Linked DNA regions of Homo sapiens: region 2 is linked to region 1. A link means that fine-mapping ties the variant in region 1 to the expression of a gene that starts in the linked region. Tissue or cell type: whole blood. Region 1 holds a variant in brackets; the other region holds the start of a gene. All regions are shown on one strand. Distances are between the middles of the regions.

Region 1 (9,816 bases):
GATTTTATACAAAAATGTAAAAATAAATAAGAACCAAAAGAATCAGAAAAGAAGCTTTTAGTGTGCTCAGCAACCCTCCCTTCCCTGCCCACTTCTCAGTTGATTCACTGTTTCTTACCAGCTCATGCCAGTCCATTAAAGAGGAGAGATAGGCAACAGAAAAAAATTAAAAGATGAACAGGACTTCTGGATGATGATTAACTGGATTACTGGATAAGCAGGCAGTCTGGTGAGCCAGTTTGTGTAGGTGTCTGTTTGTGGAGCCCTGCTCATTGATAGTTACTTCTGGTATTATCACTGAATTTCTGCTGTGAAAGTTGTCATTATGTTAACCTTGAGGCTTTAGGAATATAAACAATGCTTCCTAAATTCTAGAGATCACATTTAAGAAAGATTCATATATATAGCTAAACTTTTTAAAAAGGAATACTGTGGCCGGGCACGGTGGCTCAAGCCTGTAATCCCAGCACTTTGGGAGGCCGAGGTGGGTGGATCACGAGGTCAGGAGATTGAGACCAGCCTGGCCAACATGATGAAACCCTGCCTCTACTAAAAATAAAAAAATTAGCCAGGTGTGGTGGCATACACCTGTAATCCTAGTTACTTGGGAGGCTGAGGCAGGAGAATTGCTTGAACCTGGGAGGCGGAGGTTGCAGTGAGCCGAGATCCCACCATTGCACTCCAGCCTGGGTGACAGAGCAAGACTCAGTCTCAAAAAAAAAAAAAAAAAAAAAAAAAAAAAAAGAGGGGGGGTATACTGTAATAGTGTAAGTCTTGAAATTTTCTTCAGTGAAATTTTGCCTTGTTTCACAAATCCAGATATATGAGAATGAAGTGGTCTGAAATGTTTTAGCCTACATTGTCTACTGTCACTTTGGAGACTTTGGTAACATAATTAAAGAACATGGCAGAATGAGATTTATGAGGCCCAAAGACAGTTATTAAAGTGTAGTGGGAGCATTGTGTAGAAAGAATGTCAATGCCAAAGATTCAATCTGATTTAGATAGTGAGTGCACTTGTCCCTTAGTGCAGTGTAATATCTTAGGATTGTGCTGCATGAAGTGTTTTCAAGTTGTCATGTATTACAGATAACCTCAGGGTTCTCTCTTTGGACAGAATTTAATTGATACAAGGCTGTGCAAAGCATTGCTCACTCCAGAAATACGTTCATCTTAATAAAAGCAGGCTTAGTCAGCTCTGAGTTCATTACTCATCTGTGTAATTATATACCATGACCTATTTTCCTCTTGTATTAGAACACCTTCCACCTTCCTAATTGTGAGCTGTAATTCCTTCTGTGAAGAAAAGAATTTTTTCTTCATAGCACTTCGATGAAATTAACAAAGCTCTTGATAATACTTGAGGGATTTAAAAAATTACCTTTTAAGATTTTTTTTGCATAATATGAGGTCTCTTTTCAGTGAAGGTGTTTTGCCCAGTGAGCGTTTGTCGTCTTGAAGTGGCCCAAGTGTTTTTTCATTAAAGATCCTGCATTACACAAAACAAAAAACCAAAGATTTAAGTGAGCACCTGACTTTTTATTGGGAAAATATGTCTGTACTTACTTCTTAAATTCAGCTTGTGTAATTGTGAAATATTTCAACATGTGCATTTGTTGTTTCACTATACTTGCTATTTGTTGTCATTATTGATTATTGATTTGGTTGCAGCCTCTTGTGGGAAACTTAAACTCTGAGAGCTTGGGCATGAAGTGGTTTTGGTTATTGGTTTATATTACCCCCCCCCCCCCCTTGGATATGGATGATCGAATCAATTTATCAAATGACTGAATATAACAATTCATCTTAGCCATGAAATCATAAGTCTAATTGCAGGTGGATTTTTTTAATTGTTTTGTTTTTTAAAAACCTTTGTCTTATTGACCTTTTGGGCCAGATAATTATTTATTTTTGGGAGCTGTCCTATGCATTGTAAGATGTTTAGCAGCAGTTCTGACTTCTGCCTACTAGATGCCAGTAACCCACTACCCAAGTTGCGGTAATCAAAAATGTTTCTAGACTTTGCCAAATGTCCTCTGAGGGACAAAATTGCCCTCATTTGATTACCACCAGTGTAATGAGACTAATGTGTGGACTTTGCAGAGATAACACCTGAAAGCCATGTGGTCTGATAGGAAGAGGATAGGTTTAGCAAAATGGTGGTTGGATTTGGTTCTGCCTTAGTCTAGGTTTTCATATTTCTGAATTCTTTAAACCAGTGAGTGCTCCCTAAACTTTAATGTGCATACACATTACCTGGGATCTTGCTAAAATGAGGACTGAGATTCCATTATGTCTGGAGTTTGGCACGTGATATGGTTTGGCTCTGTGTCCCCACCAAAATCTCATCTTGTAGCTCCCGTAATACCCACATGTTGTGGAAGGGAGCCAGTGGGAGATGATTGAATTATGGGGGTGGGTCTTTCTGTGCTGTTCTTGTGATAGTGAATGGGTCTCATGAGATCTGATGGTTTTAAAAACGAGAGTTGCCCTGCACAAGCTCTCTTCTCTTGTCTGCTGCCATGTGAGACATGCCTGTCACCTTCTGCCATGATTGTGAGGCCTCCCACCATGTGGAACTGTAAGTCCAGTAAACCTCTTTCTTTTGTAAACTGTCCTGTTTCTGGTACATTTTTATCAGCAGTGTGAAAACGGACTAATACAGTAAATTGGTGCCAGTAGAGTGGCACATTGCTGAAAAGGTATCTGAAAATGTGGAAGCAACTTTGGAACTGGGCAACAGGCAGAGATTGGAACAGTTTGGAGGGCTCAGAAGAAGACAGGAAAATGTAGGTAAGTTTGGAACTTCCTAGAGACTTGTTGAATGCCTTTGCCCAAAATGCTGATAGTGATATGGACGATAAAGTCCAGGGTGAGGTGGTCTCAGATGGAAATGAGGAACTTGTTGGGAAATGGAGCAAAAGTGATTCTTGTTATGTTTTAGCAAAGAGACTGGAGGCATTTTGCCCCTACCCTAGAGATTCGTGGAACTTTGAACTTGAGGGAGATGATTTAGGGTATCTAGCTGAAGAAATTTCTAAGCAGCAAAGCATTAAAGAGGTGACTTGGGTGCTGTTAAAAGCATTCAGTTTTATAAGGGAAGCAGAGCTTAAAAGTTCAGAAAATTTGCAGCCTGACAATGCAATAGAAAAGAAAATCCCATCTTCTGACGAGAAGTTCAAGCCGGCTGCAGAAGTTTGCATAAGCAACAAAGAGCTGAATGTTAATCACCAAGAAAATGGGGAAAATGTATCCAGGGCATGTCAAAGGTCTTTACTGCAAGCCCATCACATCGCAGGCCTGGAGGCCTAGAAGGAAAAAGTGGTTTCGTGGGCCCAGCCCAGGGTCTCTGTGCTGTGTGCAGCCTGGGGAATTGGTGCCCTGCATCCCAGCCACTCTAGTGTGGCTGAAAGGGGCCCTTGTAGAGCTCAGGTCATGGCTTCAGAGGGTGCAAGCCTCAAGCCTTGGCAGCTTCCACCTGGTGTGGAGCCTGCGAGTGCACAGAAGTCAAGAATTGGGGTTTGGGAACCTCCGCCTAGATTTCAGAATATGTGTGGAAATGCCTGGATGTCCAGGCAGAAGTTTGCTGCAGGGGCAGGGCTCTCATGGAGAACCTCTGCTAGGGCAGTATAGAAGGGAAATGTGGGATTGGAGCCCCCACACAGAGTGCCTACTGGGGCACCATCTAATGGAGCTGTGAGAGGAGGGCCAACATCCTCCACACTCCAGAATAGTAGATCCCCTGACAGCTTGCACCGCTGGTCTGGAAAAGTTGCAGATACTCAATGCCAGGAGGGAGGCTGTACCCTGCAAAGCCACAGGGGTGGAGCTGCCCAAGACCATGGGAACCCACCTCTTGCATTGCGTGACCTGGGTGTGAGACATGGAGTCAAAGGAGATCGTTTGGGAAGTTTACGATTTGACTGTCCTGCTGGATTTTGGACTTGGATGGGGCCTGTAGCCCCTTTGTTTCAGCCAGTTCCTCCCATTTGGAATGACTGCATTTACCCAATGCCTGTACTGCATTGTATCTAGGAAGTAACTAACTTGCTTTAGATTTTACAGGCTCATAGGCGGAAGGGACTTGCCTTGTCTGGGATGAGACTCTGGACTGTGGACTTCTGAGTTAATGCTGAAATGAATTGAGACTTGGGGGACTGTTGGAAGACATGATTGGTTTTGAAATGTGAAGATATGAGATTTGGGAGCGGTCAGAGGTGGAATGATATGGTTTGGCTCTGTGTCCCCACCCAAATCTCATCTTGTGGCTCCCTTAATTTCCATGTGTTGTGGGAGGGACCTGGTGGTAGATGATTGAATTATGGGAGTAGATCTTTCTGTGCTGTTCTTGTGATAGTGGATGGGTCTCATGAGATCTGATGGTTTTAAAAATGGGAGTTGCCCTGCACAAGCTCTCTTCTCTTGTCTGCCACCATGTGAGATGTGCTCCACCATGATTGTGAAGCCTCCTCAGCCATGTGAAACTATAAGTCCAGTAAACCTCTTTCTTTTGTAAATTGCCCATTCTCAAATATGTCTTTATCAGCAGTGTGAAAATGGACTAATAAAGCATGATATGCTGCTGGTCCATGTACCACTCTTTGAGTTAGCATCATTTTTTTCCCCCAGATCCTGTGCCCAGGAGACATTTAATAAAGGTGATGATGGTAAAATATTTTTGTTGTAGTCGGGACTTTAGACAAGAAAAATTATATTCCAAGTAGGCCTGAAATCTAGGATCTTTGCCCAAGTTTATTCATTACATTTCATCATAATCTTCCCATCTTTATGGTCTCTTGGAAATGTAAATTGGTATTTTATACCTATTTGAGAGGTGGCGATTGTGATCATCTTATATTTACTTAGAATGTTCCTAAAAAGTCATGAGATTCTCTTTGGAAAGAAAGAGGTTAAGTTCTGCATGGAGTAATAATCTCAGTGGCCTAGGGCAGTATGGAACATGTGCTGGTTGTAAATCATATATTCTAACTTTACAACATTGAGGCTTTTATTAAAAAGTCCAAAAAAAAAAAAAAACTAGATGTCAGTGAGATTGCAGAAAAAAGAGAACACTTATGTACTCTTGTGGGATTGTAAATTAGTTCAGTCCCTATTGAAAGCAGTGTAGAGATTTCTCAAAGAACTAAACATAAAATTACCATTTCACCCAGCAATCCCATTACTAGGTATATACTCAAAGAAAAACAAATTGTTTTACCAAAAAGACACCTTCATTCACATGTTTATTGTAGTACTATTCACAATAGCAAAGGCATAGAATCAGCCTAGGTGCCTATCAATGATGGATTGGATGAAGAAAATATGGTACATATACACTGTGGAATACTATGCAGCCATACAAAAGAAATCATGTCCTTTGCAGCAACATGGTTGTAGCTAGAGGCCATTATCCTAAGTGAATTAACACAGAAACAGAAAACCAAATACCACATATTTTCACTTATAAGTGGGAACTAAACATTG[G/T]ATACACATGGACACAAAGATGGGAACAGTAGACACTGGAGACTCCAAAGACGGGGAGGTAGGAAGCGGGGAAATGGTGGAAAAACTTACTCTTGGGTTTTGTGTTCACTATTTGGGTGATGGGTTCACTAGAAGCCCAAAAGCTCAGTGTCACACAATATACCCAAGTAACAAACTTGCACATGTAACTGTTGAACCTAAAAGAAAAAAAGAAAAGAACATTGCCTACTCCTGGGGAGGGAAGTAGGAGCAAGTCCAGCCTCCTTACACCCAACCAAATACCTCGTGTTTTAACTTACAAGTGGGAGCTTATAAGTGGTAGGGTGGTTGGACTTTGCTGTATCTGTGATATTTTATTTCTTAAATTCTGAATCAAATATGCCTAATATTACTGCCTATTAACACTGGTGACTGGTACATTGGTGTTATCAACATTAGTGTCTGCACTTCTGTTTTTGTATATTTAAATTATTTCATAATTAGGAATAGAAATATCTATGGAGAATGGATTGCCTTCAAATAATGCTTTTATCAGTACCCACTTATGACGTGCATTTTTCTTCCTCTTCTTTTTTCAGTTCTTATAAAGGTACAACTTTTATATATTTTTTTTCCTTCCTTTCAGTCCAGACATCAAAAGCTTTAATACACAGTGCTCTGGATCTTTTTCTATGAGATAAATACTTGTTTTCTAGCTGATTCTGTATCAATAGAAAATAGTATAGATGTATGTAATCATTTATACATTTTTAAACTTACTGAAGCCATTTTCTTGCTGCTTTAATCTCTCATGCCTTAATGTTTAACACTTTTTTTTTTTTTGGTGTCAATGTGATCGCCTATGCGGTTTTCATAGTATTTATGTGTCGTGTATTTATAGTTGTGTTATTACATTTTATGTTACTAAAATAATTTACAAATAACTGTCTCATCTGTGTTCTGCATTCCTGTGGCACTCTTGTCCGTGCCCTCTCTAGGCTCAGTCAAGGAGAATCTCACTTTCTTCTTCACCCAGAAGAAGGAATCCTCCTCCCACCCCCTATCTTTTGTCATCACCCAGAGCATTTAAAGTTTGACACTCACCACACTTCTCAGAAGCTGTCAGGGACCTAATTTCTAAGCCTGTTGTCTTTTTCTCAGTTATCCTATTTCCTGACCCTCTTTGCAGCATTTGATATCATTGATTTCCCCTTATTGAAATCTGCTGTTTATATAGTGTAACCTTTGCCTCCTGTGTACCCCTGATATTTCTTCCTTTGCCAAGGCCGTTTGTTCATTTGCTCACTAAAGCCATCAGAACATGCTTATTACATTTTATGTTACTAAAATAACTTACAGCGTTTTACATCTTTAAAATATTTTATATTATTTACTAGTGTTATTTAATTCTCTCTGTCATCAGCCTCCTAGCTTTTCTTACCCAAGCAGAGCTGGATATTTTAGAACTTCTTTCACCCTGCCTATTGGGCTTGCCTTTCTGCCCCAGCACTGTGACTCCTTAGGGCTGGGTAAACAATGTCCTATGTTTCTAAGTCATAGACCTGTCCAGGGTGCCCTCGACTTCACAGAAGTTGCTGTTCTCTCTCTGTAATTGGCTACACTCCCCTTATTTCTCAGAAATCCTTCTTCTGCTTAGCTCCTGTGTTAGTCTATTGTCTGCTGCTATAACAATACTACGTATTGAGTCATTTATAAAGAAAGGAAATTAATTTGGCTCATGGTTCTGGATTCTCTGAAGCTCAAGATGGAGGGGATGCATCTGGTGAGGCCTTCCTGCTGCATCATGGTGGAAGGGCAAGTGAGCATGTGAGACCAAGAGAAAAAGAGGGCCAACTTCTGCAGTAATACCATTAATTTGCTCACGAGGCCTTTGCTATCATGATCTAATCATCTCTCAAAGGTACCACCTCTTAATGCCGTCACAATGGCAAATCAATTTCAAATGAATTTTGAAACGGACACTCAAACCGTAGCAGCTTTCTGTCAGATCCTATCGGTAGCTGTCTCATCCGTGTTCTGCATTCCTGTGGCACTCTTGTCCGTGCCCTGTCTAGGCTCAGTCAAGGAGAATCTCACTTTCTCCTTCACCCAGAAGAAGGAACTCTCCCACCCCCTATCTTTTTTCATTACCCACAGCATTTGATGTTTGACACTCACCACACTTCTCAGAAGCTGTCAGGGACCTAATTTCTAAGTCTGTTGTCTTTTTCTCAGTTATTCTATTTCCTGACCTCTTTGCTTGCAGTTTTTGATATCATTGATTTCCCCTTGTTGAAATCTGCTGTTTATAAAGTACATTGTAACCTTTGGCTCCTGTGTACCCCTGATATTTCTTCCTTTGCCAAGGCCTTTTGTTCATTTGCTCACTATAAAGCCGTCAGAACATGCTGCCATGCCCTATGGAAACACATCAGGGAACTCTCAGGAAGATTCCAGTCTAGGGGGAGGCTGAACAGAGGGACACTTCAAGGTATGACATGGGGTCATCATTGAAGGAGGAAGCACAGGAACACAGTGAGCACGTATCTAGTTTCAGAAATGGTGGCATCAGGGCAGCCTTCCTGGAGCATGTGATAGTGAAGATTGACAAATGAGTTGGCTTTAGCTAGGCAAAGAAGAAGGAAGGAGTTTTGGGGTGAGAGAGCTATAGGAACAGGCATCAAGACTGACACGAGAGGCTGTCACAGTGGGGGAAAATGGATGGCCTAAGCTCTTGGGTAACATGATGGAATCTTGCCAATGAGTAAACGTTTACGTTACAAATGAGGACAGTGATGCTTAAAATGGTTAAGTGATTCATCAAAGGGCACCTAACACATAGCCAGACAGTATTCAAACTAATGTCTGATTGATTCCAAGCCAGGGCTCCCCTGCTCCTGAAAGAATGTGGGGGCAGCATGTTTTATATGAATGTGATCCTTTACACAGGCCCTTCAACATTTTGCTGGAGTCGCATCTTGAGAAGTCAGCCAGTGTTTTTTTTTCAAGAAAGGAATGTGCATGTGTGTATGTTTGAGAGTATATATATTATTTTTGTTTTTGATCTGAGTTTTAAGGTTTTGCATGAGGTGGATGCCTTCAGTTTCTTCAGTTATCTTCCAGATACTGCGGCATAGAGAACCTCCTTTTGATTTGCCAGTTTCTAAAAGTATTTAAAATGAGTTTCTGATTTTTTGACTCAGTTTTCTATCTCCTGCGTTGATATCCAAAGAGAGATACAGAGTCGGACTATCATGAATGGTGATTACAACAGGTAACGTTAACCTATAAATGGTGGAAACTCTTCTGCAGGGAGAAACCCAGATCTGCTGCATGTGGTTTGGATGCCACACGCAGATCCCCTGGGGCCCCTGGCACAAGGAGAGCTCTGCTTGCTGCTGTTTGTCACCTTCAGCCAGTTTTCTCTGGCAGGAGATGTGAGCTCAAGATCAGGTCACTTGATCCTAACTCCTGCTGCTGTGACCCATCGACTTTACCTTCAGTTAGAATCCAGGTCAGTGACCAACATGTGTTAATGTAACTTAAAATTGGCTGAATGGTGTGGCCACATACTTTCATTGAGGAGCTGTGCTAAGTTTTCACATTAGAAATATCTAAATATTCTTCTTAGGCTGAATTGCAGATACCCAAGAACTTCCTCCTCCACCAAAGCATAAATTCGGCCCTCTCTTGATTCCCTCTTGATCTTCGTATTCACAGTCTTTACAACCCATAAAGATAAAAGAAATCTGAATTTCTGCTACAAACAGATCCAACTCTTGATTATGTGTGAGAATGGTAAGGGGGGACGGATTAGGTTGGATTTATAAACTGATAACGTCCAAACATAGTCTTTACTTTGTATTCTAATCGCTTCCCTCAAAACACTTTTGGCATAGCTTGTGGCAGACTGCAAGTCTAGCATATTGGCATGTCTAAGAACTCCAGCCTGTCTTCACTTTGTGATTATGCAAATGGATCATGGGAGCTGTCAGTGGAGGGTGAGGTGTGGCATAGGCACCTCATGACCTCCAATGGATACATAGTCATGCAGTCTTCCCGAATGGCAAACTGGGGGCCAGGAAAATGGCCACCCACTGTTAGCCTTTACTCTAGGGACTGCATCTTGGTAGTCAGGATGGACCTGTAATTTTTTGCCTATAATGATTGGAATAGTCCAGGGTTTCTCAGCCTTGGTACTGTTAACTGTTTTTTTCGGTTTCAGTTCTTTGTGGGTAGGCTGTCTTGTGTATTGTTGGGTGTTTAGCCGCATCCCTGGCCTGTATCCACTAGGTGGCAGTAGAACGCCATGGTTTGTGCAACCAGCCACGTCCCCACACATTTCTAAATTTT
Region 2 (9,816 bases), 19 kb before region 1:
TGCAGCTGTGTGTCAGCTGAAGACAGCGGTCAATGCTGACAAATGCTAAGAAGATAATTGATAAATACATATTGATATAGATGAGGCAGGCTGTTACTTGGCAGTGGAATATCTTCAGCTTCCAAGGTGCCACACCCAAGTCAACAACAATTTTCACTGGTAATGCCAGAGTAAGCAGGAAATCGGCTGTAAGCAAATTAATTAAGTAGATGCTCACACACCTGTGATTCGTATTCTTCTGTATAAAAGCCCAGGTTGCAAAACAACTTCCAATAATTCCAACAAGGAAAACTAAATAAAAAAAATACGTGAATGGCTCCAGATCTTTATAAACTGGGCAGAAGAACGAACTGTTTGTCATCTTGAGGGAAAGTAAGGATGACTGCTTATTGAAAAGAAAAAATTTCTAAGACTCTGTAAAAGAAACAAGGAAAGGGAGGTTAGTAATTAAAATTAGCAACTATTTTCTTTAAAAGACATTGGTCTTCACAATACCGTTGTCTTTCCAGTTCTTAGAATTTTATTGGTGAACTTACCAGACCATATGGCCTGGTGAGAACATACTAGATTGTGAAGATGCCTGGGTTTTCCATTGTCTGATTTTGTGACTTTCAGGAAATCCCATGCAGGTTTGCTTTTGGTAGGGATATTTTCAACCTCAGGTTTTTCCATTCTGGTAGTTCTTGTTACCAGTTGGGTTGGAAGTTAGTTTGCAGAGGAGATAAGTGAACCGAGATTCTGAGAAGTAGAGAGAGGAAACTAGGGTTGTGGTTGAGCATGAAGAGCTTTCAATGAGGCCTTCTGGTTTTTTTCTTGTTTTAGTTTTTTGTTTTCCATAGATTCATGTGGCTCCTAAGGCTGGGAGAACCCAGGCTGACAGGGGAAGTAAGGAGTTGATGGAAAATCTCCAGCCTGGTCGCAAGAGTCTGTCTCAAAAACAAACAGAAAAAAACCAAAAAAACAAACAAAAAAACCCACAACTACCAGAACATGGATGTATGTTCATTGGTTACAAAATCCTTGGAGAAAGATTTATTTATATTAGTATCAAAACATCTGACTTCAACACTTGAGTCGCTTTTTTTTTCTTTCATTGTGGGTTTTGAAGCAGTTAAAAGCCCAGAAGCATAAGACATACCCTTAGAACTACTGTGATCACCACTGATAATGACAATGAAGTCTTGTCATGTCCCTCCCAAATCTGGAACATTGAGCGGGTTTGTAAGCTCAAGTTAAACTGATAGGGCTCCCTTTGACCTGGTCTATTCAAACTCACATGCTTAGAGCTAAGGGTACATTAGTAATCTTTCTGGTGCTGCCTGTTGGTGTGGGTCCCCCTTTTGCACATTAAACAGTGTTCTTTTGTTTTAAAGACCTGAAGATTATTTTTGTATTTTAGCAAGGAAACATTTTATATTATAATACAACCTTTTTAAAAGAAGCAAATATAAGTTATAGTGACCAACATTGAAGGCCAGATCAGCTACTCTGTAAGTGCCTTTTAATAAGAGAATAAAACTTCTGACATCTTTCTAAATTTTAATTTCCCCAATTAATTAATGATCCTTTGTGTGCATTTGTAATGAAACAATGTATGCAAACAGATGAATAAGGCAGATGTACACAAAGCTTTCTAAATTCAAGTGCTGCTTAAAGGCTACATGCCCTTTCTCTTTCCCTACCTGAGTTAGCACGTTAGAGTCCATGAATAATGTCATTCTTTACCAAACTCGATGAAAATAATTAAGCAGTTGGTTTGTATCTGGCACTATGCCAAATACTTTACATGTACTTATTTAACTTCTTATCATTTCCATAAGCTAGGTGTTGTTATTGTCCCTGCTTTACAGATGAGGAAATTGAGGCATAATGGGGTTACTTACCCAAGGTTGTGTAGCTGGTAAGATATAAAGCCAGGATTCCAGCTCAGTCAGTCTGATCTCAGAATCACATTCAAAACCACTCCAAAACACTGCCTCAGTAACAATAGTAAGATGATGATAGAAATGATAATGATTATTATTATATCTGCCAGTCTTTACTAAGGGCTTACTGTGTGGGCAGGAACTATGTTCTAAACAATTTTTATGTAATAAAGCTGAAATAAACTATTTTTAACTTTTTACCAAAATACTAAGAATATAAGTTTAGGCTTTTCGTATATTTTGCTGTTCTATGCATACAACCACGTGCACACACTCTCTCTCTCTCTCTCTCTCTCACACGCACATTTAAAAACAAAACCTAGGCCCATCCAATAAGTTTAAACCAACTTTGCTCTCAAAGCTTCCATAACCTAGTTTCTCTCTACCATCTCTACTTACATCCCAGATTAAGATTGGGATTGGTGGGGTCTCTATTATTCTGTGTACAGTTCCTTCCTGCCTTTATACTTTTGCATGTGATAGAAATTTTGGAGTCATAGGATTTTAAGGATGGATGGAAACTTTATCGATAGCCTGTAGTCTAATCCCCAAGTCAGTTGAGGAGATTGAGGGCTGGCACTGGTGTGTTCCTCAAGCTTTCACAGCATGTTCAGGCAGGACTAAGATCTGTTCTTATTGGTCATCTTCTAAGCGCTCTGCATTTATCCTTACTATTCCTGAATCCTGCTTATTCCAGAGCTTTAAGGAAGCTCCTCACATCTGAAAGCTACTCCAGGCTTTACCGATGTCCTTGGCGACCATGAATTTGGATAGTTACCATTTGTACCTTGGAATTTTGAACATACTTTTCTTCTTTATGTGAAAAACTAGTATTCGTGTGCATTGATATAGTGTCACATCTTTGCTTATTGTTACTTTCTAAGGCCCTAGGATTTTGGCTTACGCACTTCTATTTCAAATATTACATAATAATGGTAACATAATGTGTTTCTTTAAGTGCTCCATTGCTTGCACAACTATAAAATAAGTCTGTTGTATCAATGAGACGTATATGGTAAAGAGAAGAATTAGAGTAATTTATTTTGATTAATTTTCTCTGTAGCTAGAACTGACGATATATACCGTACATGAATAATTTATCTGAAATGAATAATCATTCAGTAATTCTCAAGAATCATGGAGCATCTCACATTTCTCACATTTGTGTTTGTGAACTTTTGTCTAAATTGCAGTGAGAAACAAATCTGTTTATTTAAAATTTTTGCTTATGTAAATTAGAGGTTAAAATATTGTATAATAACATCCTGTGTTCTGTGTCACAAGTTTGAGAACTAAGTGCTTAATAAATATTTTACCAGACAGTTACTTACCAGTGAAAATGTGAGATACTCAGAAGTAGTGCAGCAACAACAATACAAGATTTTAACTGTCTCTGTAGTTTGGATAGAGTGCCCATTGCTTAGAAAATAAATAAACTGGCTGGGCACAGTGGCTCACGCCTGTAATCCCAGCACTTTGGGAGGCTGAGGCGGGTGGATCACTTGAGGTCAAGAGTTCGAGACCAGCCTGGCCAACATGGTGAAATCCTGTCTCTACTAAAAATACAAAAATTAGCCAACGCGGTGGCGGGCACCTGTAATCCCAGCTACTCGGGAGGCTGAGGCAGGAGAATTGTTTGAACCCGGGATGTGGAGGTTGAAGTGAGCTGAGATCGCACCACTGCACTCCAGCCTGGGTGAAAAAGCGAGACTCCTCAAAAACAAAACAAAACAAAAACAAAATAAAAGCTTATTAGATTTTCTATGGGAATCACAGTGGAATCTTCTTGAAATCACCTATTGTAATGTTTGTAGAGGAAAGTCATCTTAAGGCCTGTTGTTCCCTGTTGTGAAGATCTACAACATGGCCTCTATCCACCCAGTTATAAGATTGAGTTACTGAATAGTTATGCTCGCTCAGGTATTCAGTCTGGTGTCAATTATCCTGTCTTTTGGAGACAGATGAATGGGTTCATCAGATATAAGAAAATTATAGTGTCATTCACAGCTAGGACCTATTTAGAGTTTAAAAATTGATGCTTTTTTTTTATACAGCTTGGCTTTTTCTACTTATAAGCCTTAAATACTGAAAAATCACAATTTTGTTTTCCACGGAAAAGCATTTGAATATATTAAGTGTTTAAAAAGACATACCTGGGGCTATCTTCTGTGAGCCTCAGCAAGCCTTGCTGCAAGTCTTCAGAGAAGCATGAGCTGTTTGGTTAGCCGCAGCAGTAGCAACCCCATTGCAGGCTGCTGGCTTTACTAAAAATTTCCTTTCCTTTTTGTGTGGTTTTAAAATGTTGCATATTGACGTAGATGAAACTGTGGTTTGCAAGTAGTTTAACTTTATGAAAGTCTCCTAAAGAAGTTTTTTTAATGTATACAATTTCATGTATGCTTTCTTAAGCAATTTATTTGTCATATTTTTTAGAGAAAAGATCTTCATTTAGTACCTAGCCTTTTTTTTTTTTTAAAGTATCCAAGGTATGTTTTGTGTCATAATGATTTCAAAGAATATCACTCTTCATGCCTTGATGGGGATTAATAATTAAAGATATAAGGTGTTTAAGCAAATATTTTTTCAGTATATATAGTAACACAGCATTTCAAAGTTAAAATTTAAAAAATAGTTGCAGTTTTTATTCCTGCTGAGACACCTATTATTAAAAAAAGAAGTAAACAAAAAGATGTGTTTTACAGAGTCAGCTAATGTATACATTTTATTTATCTTATTTTATGTTCATTATAGAAAAATCTGGAAATAGAAATAAAAAAGGAACATCATTATGCAGAGAGATAATTACTGTTAATATTTTTGGTACATAAGTTTTAAATTTTTTCTATGCTTATGTATTTCCACTTAGATGTTATTCATACTATTTTATAGTTTATAATTTTTCATTGAAGAATATATTATATATTCAATTTATGAGATTAGACTTGTAATAAGTATTTGTCTGTTTGACTCAAACAGCCTGATGAATTGGAATAGTATTTAGTAATTAATAGATTGTGTGTAAAGGAACCCTACAGTGTGTATTTAAGTTGTTTGGTTAAATGTTCATTGTGTCTGTGGCAGAACTAACTGAATGTTTGAAAGAAGCCTAGCATGCTGGGGGACCTAACAAACATATTTTCAAGAGTTCTGAATTTTCTGGTTCAAAGTTGATGTGTTAATGCAAAGCCATTGCCTGGTTATTTAGGGTCTGGTTTCTTCTAATGCTTCATTGGCTTGGTAGGTGCTTTGGTTTCTTTTAATAATACTTGGTCAGTTTTCTGGATAAGAAAAAAGAAGATACCTTTCCAGGATCTAAAATTAATCTCTTGGTATTAGTTTTTAAAAAGAAAAATGTCTCAAAAGATGAAATGAGAAGTATCTAGCTAGGGAGAATTTAGGGAAAGTCTAAGGAGACTTTTGAAAAAAATGTAAAGATGCTTATGATGATATTGGTCACGTCTCAGGTATTCTGACATTCTCCCAAATTCATATAATTATTATTTTTGCCAGTGAAGACCATAAATTATAAACTAGGAGGGAAAAAGCAAATGTTTCTCAAACATTTTATGTTAAGAACCACTGTGAACTTCATCATCATAGTGCTAGGAAAGGATCTTTCTTTTAAGATATGTATGCTTCAACATTGTACAGGACTCACTGAAGAACATACTTGTAGAAAAGATATATTTGCAGACAAGTAAGTGAGAAGTGATCAGGGTTTACATCCACTGGAGGGTAGAGGAGATGAAAGGGAGAGAATTTAGAGATGAGTGGAGTTGACTGCAAACAGTGGTGAATGATTTTACCATGGCATGGAGAAAAACTGGGATGAAAGATTTTTGACAGTTTCTGTTTTGCTTTTTTTAGTTAGGTCTCTTTATATGTTTACTTCCTCGGTTCACTTTAAGGTTGTAGACACAATTGAAAAGTACAAACAATTGTACTTAAAAATCTACCCAGACCACAGTTTCTGTGTCTGGATTGCCAAATGTGAAAGCACTGAAGTGCCCTTGTTCTCAGAGTTCTATTTAATTTTTAGAATAGTGAGAATTAATCTTTTAATAGATGAATCATATTCCTCCTTCTGAGAATGAGCTTAGGCAACCTGGCTTTGTGTGGAAGTTTATTCACAGTGGAAATACATGTAGTTTTCATTTTTTAATACTAGTTTCATTTGATTTTCTATAAGCCACTTTTTTCTATCTGTTTCACTGAGGACAAGTGTTTGTGACTGTACTTAGTGTTCCGGGAAGTTGCATGTCATCACTAATACACACCCAAGCGGGAAGAAGTGAGGTGAAGTTATTTTTCCCTTACCTTGGTCATGGCAGTACTTTTTGTTAAAGAAATAATCTATTCATTACTTATGAATATTTCATGGATATTTTGTATGTGTAAAATAAAAATTAAAGCTAAATTGTCCACCAAGTTATGAATTGAGAAAGAAAATATTTTCTGTGGTCAACTCTCCTATCCATACAAAACGTGCTTTTGATTTTATTGAACACAAATACCAAACAACGGTATTTCAGTAGAAATACTTGCTTTGAATATTTAGCGTTTTTAAAATGTGCTTTTTCGGCATAGCATGGAAGCCATTTGGAACTAATGAGGAAGGGGAAAGCAAATGTTGGGGTCGGTGGTCACTGCCACAGCCGGGCACAGGTCTGAGGACTTGTTTTTGTTAAAACAAGCCATGAGATACAGGAGATTCTGCCTCTTACAGATGGGGAAACTGTGGTGCAGAGAAATTAAGGCCCACTCAAGCCTGCACAGTTAGACCCTAGCGTCCCAGCTCTTAGTTATGCTTCTTACAATGAAATTGCTGGGGACAGTGATTACAATGGAGGCCATCAGGTCAATCCGGTCCCCCTTCCCATTTAGTATTTGTAACCATTTGAATTTGCATGCCATTGGGTGGTAGAACAGTGTACCACTGTTCTTGCCTTCCTCATGGAGTTTTCAGCCTCTGGAATGTGAATTTGGGACGCTCTTACATCAAAATAATTTACAAATGGAAGATTTTTATGATCAGTCACTTCTGCCACAGCCTGTGCAACTCCAGTTCAGCCCTCTCTCTATAGCCGTTGTGCTTCAGGGTTATGTTTTGAAAGAAAATAATTTTTTTTTTTTTTTTTTTTTGCACATAATATTCTTTCCCACCTGCGTTAGCCCAAAGATTTTTTTCTGTGCTCTGAGATTGGTAGCTTTAAATCTGAGAGTGACTGATGTGATTAAGCAGTGTAGTTTTAAAGTGAAATGTAGACGTATGGTTTCCATGTTACTGTTTCTGTATTATTTAAATTCTGCCTTGTTTTTTTTTCTTTACTGAAATGGAGAATACATGTTTGGAAATGATTTGAAGGCAAATTTGTTTTTTTCACATTCTTGGAATGTGAACTCAGTTAAAAGAATGGCTGGGTACATTACCCTGTCATTTCCCCTTGACAGTCCTTTTGGTTGTCTGCCTTTTTGTTGATGTTATTGCGTCAACATTTCATTTTACCTTTTGGTTGTGAGGTGTGACTGCTATTTGGTCCATGGTTAAAAGATAATTTATGGAGGGGAAATTTATAATAAAGAACTTTTAAAGATTATCTCGTTTCTTTTTAGTCACTGAATTTCATGCTTTTTTTCCCCCATTTGTTTGTTTATGGTCCATTTCTTATGAACTTATGACTAACACATTATCTTTTTTTTTTTTTTTTTTTTGAGACAGAGTCTTGCTCTGTCACCCAGGCTGGAGTGCAGTGGTGCAATCTCAGCTCACTGCAAGATCCGTCTCCCAGGTTCACGCCGTTCTCCTGCCTCAGCCTCCCGAGTAGCTGGGACTACAGGCACCCACCACCACGCCCAGCTAAATTTTTGTATTTTTAGTAGAGATGGGGTTTCACCGTGTTAGCCAGGATGGTTTCGATCTCCTGACCTCGTGATCCACCTGCCTCGGCCTCCCACAGTGCTGGGATTACAGATGTGAGCCACCGTGCCCGGCCATGACTAACACATTTTCAAAGCACAGAACACATTTTTAAAACTTTTTAGTTACTTTCCAGGAGAATGTTCTTTGGAGAACATCTCCCTTTTCCTAGCCATGTGATTTTTTTTTTTTTTTTTAAGACAGGGTCGTCTTACGTTGTCCAGGCTGGAGTGCAGTGGTTATTCAGAGGTCTAATCATAGCTTGCTGCAGTCCCAGACTCCTTGGCTCAAGCAATCCTGTTGCATCAGCCTCCTGAGTAACTAGGACTACAGGGGCACAACACTGCACCCAGCCATGTGAATATTTCTTGATCAAGTATTTATGAAAAATTATAACAGCAAATATTTATCAATTACAGGCTGCCTCCTGAGCTCTTATCCTGGAGAATATTTTATGCTTTGTACAGGAATGAAAAGGAATCTTATCACCTGCTATGTGCTGTTAGAACCTGTGGGAATCCGGGTATTGTAATGCTCCAGACTGTGGTGGGGTGAATAGGAGCTTCTTCAGAATGAGCTACAAGGTGGCATGCTTGGGGGATGACACAGATAATTGGAGTATGAGAAATTTTGGGGGGGACTGTCAGGCAATTTGGGGGCTTGGGTGTCTCTGTGAGGAAAAGATTGAGACCAAATCTTGGATGCTCCCTGGGATTTTAATAAAGTAAGCATTGGAGAGCTCATGGTTATACAAGGCAAGGAGCTGTCAATTGGGCAGTATTAGGTGAATCTACCAACATTGGAGTTTGCTTGGTTAGGAGAGAAAGTGGAAGGTGAGAAGCCAGTTAAGGAAAGATTGCAGTCATTTTAAGTGAGAAGCAATAAGGATCTGAAATTACATGGGAAGGGAGGAATAGCTGAGAACCACTGCAGAAGTAAGATCACTGCAGGGTGGGGTAGAGAGGGAGCAGAGGAGACTGAGGTTTTAGTCCTGGGAAAGGAAGTCTGAGGAGAGAGGCAGCTTGGTCAGATAGAAAGGTGAATTTGCCTTATTGGCTGACAAAGTTTTTATTTGATATAGCTTAGATAGATTTTTATTTTATTCTTTTTCATTTAGGTTTTAAATGTTTCTCAGAGCTTTATCTGTCATTAACCAGAACATTCTGAATGTACTTTGCAAACACTTAAGGAGCTCTTATTTTGAATGGCCTTGATGGAAATGCTGGTTTTCTTATTTAAAATAAGACCATTTTTCTTATTTTTTACCTAACTACTTTCATACTGTTAGCCAGATATGAACTACACTTGGCCATGCCAATTTTTTTATAGTTGCTTGTTTTTCTTAACAAGAAAGTGAATTTGATGTGGAGTTGAAGTTGGCTTTTATAAGGATTATGTTCTCATGCAGTCAATATGATATCAGAGAGAGCTAGTATTCCTTTAGAAAGATAATGGTTGAAAGTACAACATAACTAACAGCTTGAAAAAAGCTGCAAGTTAAATGTAGAGACCCTTTTAGCTTAGAAAATAGAACATTGAGGCCGGGCGCTCACGCCTGTCATCTCAGCACTTTGGGGCCCGAGGTGGATGGATCACCGGAGGTCGGGAGTTCGAGACCAGCCTGGCAAACATGGTAAAACCCCATCTTTACTAAAAATACAAAAATTAGCCAGGCGTGATGGCGGGTACCTGTAATCTCAGCTACTTGGGAGGCTGAGGCAGGAGAATCGAACCCTGGAGGTGGAGGTTGCAGTGAGCTGAGATCACGCCACTGCACTCCAGCCTGGGGGACAAGAGCAAGACTCTATGTCAAAAAAAGAAAACAGAAAAATCAAGAATTTAAGTAATATGTAATATTGTATGGATATGATGAGGGCCATGTTTTCTTGGTGTTCATTTGTGTCAGGAAATGGAATGATAGGAAAGTAAGCCCTTTGCCACACACTTCTGGGGCAGGTTTAGCAGGTCATCAGA

The links. PIP is the estimated chance that this variant, and not a neighbour inherited with it, causes the effect.
Region 2: GPR171 starts here. The variant in region 1 is fine-mapped to the expression of GPR171 in whole blood (TOPMed, PIP above 0.99).

Annotation. Positions count from the first base shown.
Region 1 is chr3:151,218,154-151,227,969 of GRCh38, forward strand. All of the region lies in intron 16 of MED12L (mediator complex subunit 12L), which reads left to right. P2RY14 (purinergic receptor P2Y14) reads right to left here. Exons shown (of 3, transcript NM_014879.4): 2 at 1,382-1,489. Among named protein-coding and RNA genes, the nearest start is that of GPR171, 20 kb to the left of the region's middle. The variant G/T (reference allele first, on the strand shown) is at 5,485.
Region 2 is chr3:151,199,026-151,208,841 of GRCh38, forward strand. GPR171 (G protein-coupled receptor 171) reads right to left here and starts at 4,191. Exons shown (of 3, transcript NM_013308.4): 1 at 4,079-4,191; 2 at 1,884-1,972; 3 at 1-414. The coding sequence starts at 361. The region is part of intron 16 of MED12L (mediator complex subunit 12L); the gene reads left to right.